Linked DNA regions of Homo sapiens: region 2 is linked to region 1. The links come from fine-mapping of genetic effects on gene expression. A gene starts in region 1. The other region holds a variant in brackets. All regions are shown on one strand. Distances are from middle to middle. Region 1 holds the start of GAPT (GRB2 binding adaptor protein, transmembrane). Region 2 has its middle 15 kb from the start of MIR548AE2.

Region 1 (4,402 bases):
GACAATAAATATGTATTTTGCGAGGCCAAAGATTGGGAAGTAGGAAAATATAGAATTCAAGACATAAAACATAATCCCTACAAATGACAATGATCCAATAATTCTATTTTGAATATATACAGCATTTCTTTTATAAACTTGAAGAATAATTATATCCATTACATCAAAAAAATTCTATTTGAGGAAAGTGCCAGTCATTTTCCCTCCATTTTATTTTCCGTTAGAAAAACTAAAGTAATAAGGGGTTAAGCAACTTTTTTAACTTCAAAGGGCAAAAGCTGAATGAGCACCAGTTGTCCTGCCTTCTAGAGAAAATCATAATTTTATACAAACATTGTATAAATTGCCTTTCTTACAGATGTATGCCTAGGCAGGTGAGTGTGTATATTATTTGGAGGGGTGGCTAATACTGAAGTTAAATATAGTGGTGAGAATGTGGAGCACATCAAGTTCATAGCTTCACAACTTCATAACCTCCTTCACTGTAAGATTTTTGTCCAGGACACCCCTATTCTGCCTTAACACCTTATTCTATGAGGCTTAGCTCAGGTCTTGCCTTCCCTGACCACCCTCTGAGCTGGATGCCTCTTTCCTTTACCTCCACTGTCCCTGTCCATAATCCTGTCTTTCTTAGGCATTATCACTTTGATCTGAAATGTTCTGTGGGCGCAGCAGCCTCTCTACTTGGCTTTAAGTGCTGCAGGGAGCTTATTCACTCTTGCATCCTCATCTCTTAGCACAATGCCTGGCATAATGTCAGTGCTCAGCAAGTGTTAATAATACGTCCTGTCCTTCCAATGTCCAGTAGTTATTTCAGTAACTAAATCCTCTTTTTTAAAACCACCTTATGCAAAGTTAATCCTCTGTGGTTCAAAAAGTTCCAAGACAACTTAAAAGACAAATTTTCCATTACTTTGTCATCTCATCTGTCGAATTCATCTGTAATTTGTCTAATTCAGCATCTCCCACTGTGTGTGTTCCCATGAGTTGGACTCCAAGAGATGCTCTTGGTAAGCGTATCTATGTGGGAAACATGTTACTCAATCTAGCAAGGCAGCCAGTGCAGTGGTTTAGCACACAGGTGCTGGGGGCAAACTGCAGGCTCTGTCGGGCAAGTGATCATTCTGTGTGCTTCTGTTTCCTCTTCTGTAAAATAGGACTAATAACAGTTTTTCTCCCTCACAGGGTTGTTGCCAAGATTTGCTGAGTATTACACAAAAGGTTTGGAGTACTTAGTGCTAGGAACATACTGACTACTATTATTAAGCAAAGTTAAACAATTTCTTTTTCTTATTTGGTTTTATTTTGTTTGCTGGCTGTAAGACTGCTGAGAGCCTTTAGCATGCTGATGTACCCATGAATCTCCAGGGAAGCAGTATTCCCCACATTTACTTGATGGAAGAGCTGCTAGCATATCTCAGGGGTAATGGGCCTCAAAACATACCTTAGGAAATTCCTATTTATAAATTTAAAAGAACGTTAACATTTTCCAAACCCAAATTGGGACACTGATTTGACCTGTATGGCTATAACTTGGGAGCATTGGTACATAATATTAATATTTGAAGAGAGGACTGGTCTAGCAACACAAGTAAATAATAATAATAATAATAAAAGCCCAAGACCTATGTGTTACTACAATTAAAATATTTCTTTTTTTAAAAAATCAAAGTACAAGTGAAGTGACTTTTATTGATATTAAAGTGGGAACTGCAAATATGGCCCAAATAAAAAACCATGTAGGCTTTACGTATTATTTTCTGACACAGTTAAAAAACTATTACTTGACAAAGATGAAGGGCCAGACTTCCTTATTCAAAACCTCACGCCATTTATCTTAATTCTGCTGCATCTGATACTGACTTCCTCTAGAGCCAGGAAACTTTGCAAGTATTAAATAGCGTGAACGAAGGAGGGAAAGAAGGAAGTAACCCACCAAAGTGAAAAAGAGGAACAAGTTCTAACCCAATGCAGGTTTAAAACATAACCAAAAGAACAAAAGAGAGAGCTTGACACACCAATCTTGAGGTAAGTAAGAACCTGATTTAAGGTATTTGGATGATTAAACACTATAAGAAACAAGTTTGTCTTTAATTAATCAATGATTTTTATCTTACTACAGTTTTTAGAAAAAAATGCCTTACGTAGCTGTAAGGGGGAAACCCAATTTACAAACTGAGAGTGATGTTAATGTTTCTTTACAATATGATTATGCTTTGCTGTTACCTTGTTTCCAAACAGCAGGGCATTCTCTTACTTGAAAATTCCTGAAGTTTCTCAACAATTTGCGATTTTAAGAAAAATGTCAAATTGTTAGGTAACCTGTTGGAACTGCTTTCCAAAATGAAAACAGAGTCTTCTTTCAAACTGGTCAAAGTGAACATTATTTAAGTGTTAAACTATATTTGAATGGTTATTGTTTAAAATATGTTTTTCATTATAGTAGGTCTTTGTTCATGTCTCACAGGTTTTTTCCTCTAATGTTATTTCGAAGAAAATGATGCATTTCTTTTTCTGTAAAAAGTCTTCTTGTCTTTATCTTGGTAAATATCTCTTAGACAAACAATTTTAATATTTTGGATGTACCAGAATTTCTACTCTACATAGAATAACATAGATGGTAAAAATGCCTTTTCTTCTTAAAAATTAAGAGAGTAATTTATTGCCTTATCCTCAGCTACAGAAGTGACAATAGTTAGCCTTCCTCAACCCTCACCGTGACTTCTGTTGCAGGCCTAGTATCTTTCAAAAAGTTGATTAATTTCAATCAATACTTAAAGTGTATTTTGTAAATTTATTTCAAATATTCTGGCAAATAACTTCTTAAATCATTAACCATGTATACCATAAAATATCTTGCAGATAATTGGTGCTCATCTGTTTCAGACAGGAAATGAGGTCCTAATGATTAAAGTCATTTGGCTAAACTTTTGTCCTTGAACACAAGCACGGCTGGCCTTATAAAGGAGGGACCCTGCAGATTGTAAATCTTATGTGGCGGACCATACAGTTCTCAACCTCAATATTACTCCCAAAAATTCCAAGGAGATTAAAATGTTTCTGCATCTGGGGTGCTTGTCCCTGTATTTTTATCAAAAAATTGTATAAATTAGCTGCACATCTTATTTAATTTTCTTTTATGAAATGTCAAATTAAATATTTGCATATTAATATATTCTAACCTTGGACAAATTTATGAACGTTCATTACCATTAAACTTTTCATGAAAACTCACTGAAAGCAGAGCACCACTTTGTGAATTTCTATTTTTCTTCTCATTGTTACTATTATTATCCCATAAGGAGATTACTTCATTCATTAACAAATGTCTAATAGATTAGTCATTCTGTGTCTAATGCTGGTGTTGGTAATACAAAGGTAAATAATATATGATTTCCAACCTTCGAGAACCTCAGAGCTAATCAAGCTATACAAATTTTCTGACTGATGCACTTAGTAGCATGTTACAGATATTTGGATAAATAATATTTTGGGGAAATTTTTACCTGAATTCTCATTCAGTCACATTTTGGTTGTAAGGAAGTTACTTAACTTCTTTAAGCCTCTCTTCTTATCTATAAAATGGTGATATGAATAGTACCCACTACATATAGCAGCTATAGGATTAAATGAGATAATCCCTGTAACAGTTTTTAAAAGCTGAAACTCTTAACTAAACATTATTGATGATAATAACATTCCATAGATGATAATAATCATTTCACAGGCACTGTTGGATCTATGTCTATGTCTAGACTGAAAATATACAGTAATAATGTTTTGTTGATAAAATCACAATGGAACATGCAGCCCAGTTGAACACTTCCCCTTCTTGTCTCCTTGCCATTTTAAAGCATCAACAGAAAACAATGTAAAATCATCTTGCATGGAAGTTATTTTCTGAAAGCTATGAGAAAACCTGTGATACTAAGGATTTTGAAAATACATTGGTTTACTTTAAAGATCTCATTTCATGTTTTAAGTATAAACTACACCCTTGAGTTTTAAACTATCATCTTAAGCAATTAGATGCTGACATTTGCAGTCATTTTTAAATGCATTATTTCATTCAATAAATATTGATTGGATGCATTTTCTGTGCTAGGTGTTGTGCCATTCTCTGGGAACATACAGATGAAATGACCTGAACCCTGCCCACCATTTAACCAAGTAAGAATACAATTCTCTCTCATTTAGGTTATCACGCTATAATAGAGAATGGACTCATTAATATGGGATTACAGAGGAAGGAATGGTTAAGAAAAAGACATGGCCTCTGACTGCTCCAAAAAAGGATAAGCAGGGCTTCACAGAAGAGGTGACAGGTAATAAAGATGATTGCACGTGTCTGTATATGTCCCTTTTTTTCTATTGTGCTCAGAACATTATCTTTCACTCAAAA
Region 2 (4,402 bases), 23 kb after region 1:
CAAGTGATGAAAGGACTTAGAGAATAAAGCAAAAGTACTTACTTTACATTACTTTGCAATGTTATAAAATCATCCTATTGGATACTTGGGTGGCAATCTGCATGACAATGACTTTTAATGGACATTTGATATGGTTTGGCTGTGTCCCTGCCCAAATCTCAACTTGAATTGTATCTCTCAGAATTCCCACATGTTGTGGGAGAGACCCAGGGGTAGGTAATTGAATCATGGGGGCTGGTATTTCTCATGCTATTCTCATGATTGTGAATAAGTCTCACGAGATCTGATGGGTTTATCAGGGGTTTCTGCTTTTATTTCTTCCACATTTTTCTCTTGCTACCACCACGTAAGAAGCGCCTTTCACCTCTCGCCATGATTCTGAGGCTTCCCCAGCCATGTGGAACTGTTTAAGTCCAATTAAACCTCTTTTTGTTCCCAGTTTGGGGTATGTCTTTATCAACAGTGTGTAAACAAACTGATACAACATTTTTAAGGAACTCACCATAATCTCATTTCTAAAAGTGACCTCACACATTGAAGAATAGTGTCTTTCAGACCTTTTAACTAATTATTTCCTCTTCCTGGAATGTTCTGCCCCAGGTATCTGTTTAGGCTATTCTGTCACTTTCTTCAAGGCCAGTACCCCATTGGTCAGACTACTTCATTCACTTCATAATAATAACTAACACTTATGTAACATGACAAGAATCATTATACATCAATTGACTAAAAAGTGACATTTTAAGAGATTAAATTTTAAATTTTAATTGTTATATATCATTGCGGGAAGCCAGGGACCCCGAACAGAGGGGCCGGTTGGAGCCACAGCAGAGGAACATAAATTGTGAAGATTTCGTGGACATTTATCACTTCTGAAATAATACTTTTATAATTTCTTACACCTGTCTTACTTTAATCTCTTAATCCTGTTATCTTCATAAACTGAGAATGTATGTCACCTCAGGACCCTGTGATAATTGCGTTAAATGTACAAATTGATTGTAAAATATGTGTGTTTGAACAATATGAAATCAGTGCACCTTTAAAAAGAACGGAATAACAGCGATTTTAGGGAACAAGGGAAGACAGCCATAAGGTCTGACTGCCTGTGGAGTCGGGAAAAAGAGCCATATTTTTCTTCTTGCAGAGAGCCTATAAATGGACATGCAAGTAGGGAAGATATTGCTAAATTATTTTCCTAGGAAGGAATATTGATATTAATACTCTGGGAAAAGAATTGCATTCCCAGAGGGAGGTCTATAAACAGCCGCTCTGGGAATGTCTGTCTTATGCAGTTGAAATAAGGACTGAAATACACTCTGGTCTCCTGCAGTACCCTCAGGCTTAGTAGGATTGGGAAACTCCAGCCTGGTAAATTTTTGGTCAGACCGATTCTCTGCTCTCAAACCCTGTTTTCTCTTAAGATGTTTATCAAGACAATACATGCACCACTGAACATAGACCCTTAGGAGTTTCTGATTTTGCCCTTTAAAGCATGTGATCTTTGTGACCTACTCCCTGTAATTACACCCCCTCCCCTTTTGAAATCTTTAATAAAAACCTGCTGGTTTTGTAGCTCAAGTGGGCATCACAGTCCTACCAATATGTGATGTCACCCCCGGTGGCCCAGCTGTAAAATTCCTCTCTTTGTGCTCTTTCTCTTTATTTCTCAGACTGGCTGACACTTATGGAAAATAGAAAGAACCTACATTGAAATATTGGGGGCGTGTTCACCCAATAATATACTTATATGGTTCAAAATTCAAAAGGTACAATAGAATTTATACTGAAGTTTTTCTTTTAGCCCTGTTCCATATTCCCACTTTCAGCTCTTGACACCAGAAAGAACATAACTCACACATTAGGGGCAAATCACATTAGTAGAAGATGAAGCTCATAGATTGTTACTCTTTTAATAAAAATATGAAGAGTTTACATTATTACATGCACTTGTGAACTGTCACACAATTTAATGGACTATGATATTTCATTTTCTGCCTCATGTGGATAATTAATGAAAAAAAATCTCTAGAGCACTAAGATGTTACATTGTGATGTGGCATAAACATTATTTCTTTAGGGAGCAATGATCAATTTTTTAAATTTTATTTTCCCAAAATTTTGCACATTTTAATTATTTAAAATTTATTTAGAAGATTTATTTACAAGATGGCCAATCGGAAGCAGCTATGGTCTGCAGCAATCATGGAGAGGAATGAAAGCGGTGAGTAAATTTATCACCTTCAACTGAAATATCCAGGTTCTCGCATTGGGACTGACTAGGCAATCAACTGAATCCAAGGAGAATAAAGAAAAGCAGTGTAGGGCAACAGTTTACCTGGAAGCAGCACAGAGCCAAAGGAAGCCCTCTCAGCCAAGGGTAGTGGTAAATGATTGTGTGACCTTGCCTGGGAAACCAC[A/G]CTTCTCCCACAGATCTTTGAAACCAATGGATGAGGAGATCTCCTCCTGAGCCCACACCACCAGGGTCTTGGGTCCGATACACAGAGCTGTGTGGAGTTTTGGCAGAGCATCTACTCAGGCACACACAGAGACCCAGGAGTTTTACATACTCTGGCCTCGGATTCCCAGCAAGGTGGCAGATTCATCTGTACCTTCCCCTAGGAAGGTGGCTGAATCCAGGGAGCCAAGCAGCATTGTTCTGTGGCCCACTTCCACAGCACCTCAAGTTAAGACCCACCGGCTTGGACTTCCAATCAGATAATGGCAAAAGGCTGAGTCTGCCTGAAATGGGAGGGAGTTCCCGGGGAGGGGGGTGGCCACCATTTCTGTGGTTCAGTGGACTCAGCATTACAGCCTCCTGGCTCTGGAGAATCCAGGTAGTCCAGATGAGGAGGAGTCCCCCACAATGCAGCACACCTGCTTTGCCAGATTATGCTCCACCTGCTTCTGTAAGCAGGACACCAATCCATTCCTCCCCTTTGGGAGGGGCCTCCCTGTGGTGGGGCCTTCAGTTACAAGTCAGGCTTATATGGACAGAACTGTGATCTCTCCTGGAACTGAGCTCCCAGTGGGAGAGGCAGCCACCATCTCTGCAGTTCAGTCAACTCAACTGTTCCAACTTGCTGACTCTGGAGAGTCCAGGTGGTCTCGATGAGGAAGGGTCCCCCCAGTGCAGCACACCTGCTCTACTGAAAGCAGCCAGACTGCTTCTGTAAGAGGGTCCCTCTTCCGTTCCTCCCGATTGGGTGAGACCTCCCAAACAGGAGTTTCCAGACATCTACAGGAGAGTTCCAGCCAACAACAGGTCAGTTACACCCCTGGGATGGAGCTTCCAGAGGAAACAGGTGGCTATGATCTTTGCTGTTTCTCAGGCTTCACTGGTGATAGCTCCAGGTATCAGAAAACCCAAGGCAACTAGGGTCTGAAGTGGAACCTCCAGCAAACCACGGCAGCCCTATGGTTGCTAACAGTCAGTGACCTTACTGTTAAAAGAAAAACAAACAAAAAAAGAAAACAACAACAACAACAAAGACCTCACAAAAACCCCATTCAAAAGTCAGCAACATCAAAGATTAAAAGTGGATAAGCCCACGATGATGAGAAGAAATCAAAACAAAAACACTGAAAACTCAAACAACCAGAGTGCCTTTTCTCCACCAAATGACCACAACACCTCCCCAGCAAGGGCACAGAACTGGGCTGAGGCTGAGATGGCTGAATTGACAAAAGTAGGCTTCAGTGGGTGGTAATAAGGAATTTTGCTGAGCTAAAGGAGCATGTTGTAACCCAAGGGAAAGAAGCTAAGAATCATGATAAAACAATACAGGAGCTGAAAACCATAATAGCTACTTTAGAGAAGAACATAACTGACCTGATGGAGCTCAAAGCACAACACAAGAACTTTACAATGCAATCACAAGTATCAATAGCAGAATAGATCTAGCAGAGGAAAGAATCTCAGAGCTTAAAGACTGTCTTTCTGAAATAAGACAGGCAGACAAGAATAGAGAAAAAAGAATAAAAATCAATGAACAAAACCTCTGAGAAATGTGGGATTATGAAAAAAGACCAAATCTGTATATTGGTCTGATTGGGGTACCTGAAAGAGATGGGGAGAACAGAACCAAGTTGGAAAACATACTTTAGGATATCATCCAGGAAAACTTCCCCAAACTAGCAAGAAAAACCAACATTCAAATTTAGGAAATCCAGAGAACCCTAGTAAGATACTCCATGAGAAGACCAACCCCAAGACACATAATCATTAGATTCTCAAAGGTCAAAATGAAAGAAAAAATGTTAAGGGAAGCCACAGAAAAAGGCCAGGTCACCCACAAAGGGAAACCCACCTGACTAACAGTGGACCTCTCAGCAGAAACCATACAAGCCAGAAGAGATTGGGGACCAATATTCAACATTCTTAAAGAAAAGGATTTCCAAC

The links. PIP is the estimated chance that this variant, and not a neighbour inherited with it, causes the effect.
Region 2: its variant is the best candidate, but not a certain one, in a credible set for the expression of GAPT in monocytes (TOPMed, PIP 0.54).

Annotation. Positions count from the first base shown.
Region 1 is chr5:58,489,514-58,493,915 of GRCh38, forward strand. It overlaps GAPT (GRB2 binding adaptor protein, transmembrane), which reads left to right and starts at 1,922. Exons shown (of 3, transcript NM_001304431.2): 1 at 1,922-2,028; 2 at 4,198-4,325.
Region 2 is chr5:58,512,632-58,517,033 of GRCh38, forward strand. No RefSeq gene overlaps it. Among named protein-coding and RNA genes, the nearest start is that of MIR548AE2, 15 kb to the right of the region's middle. The variant A/G (reference allele first, on the strand shown) is at 2,421.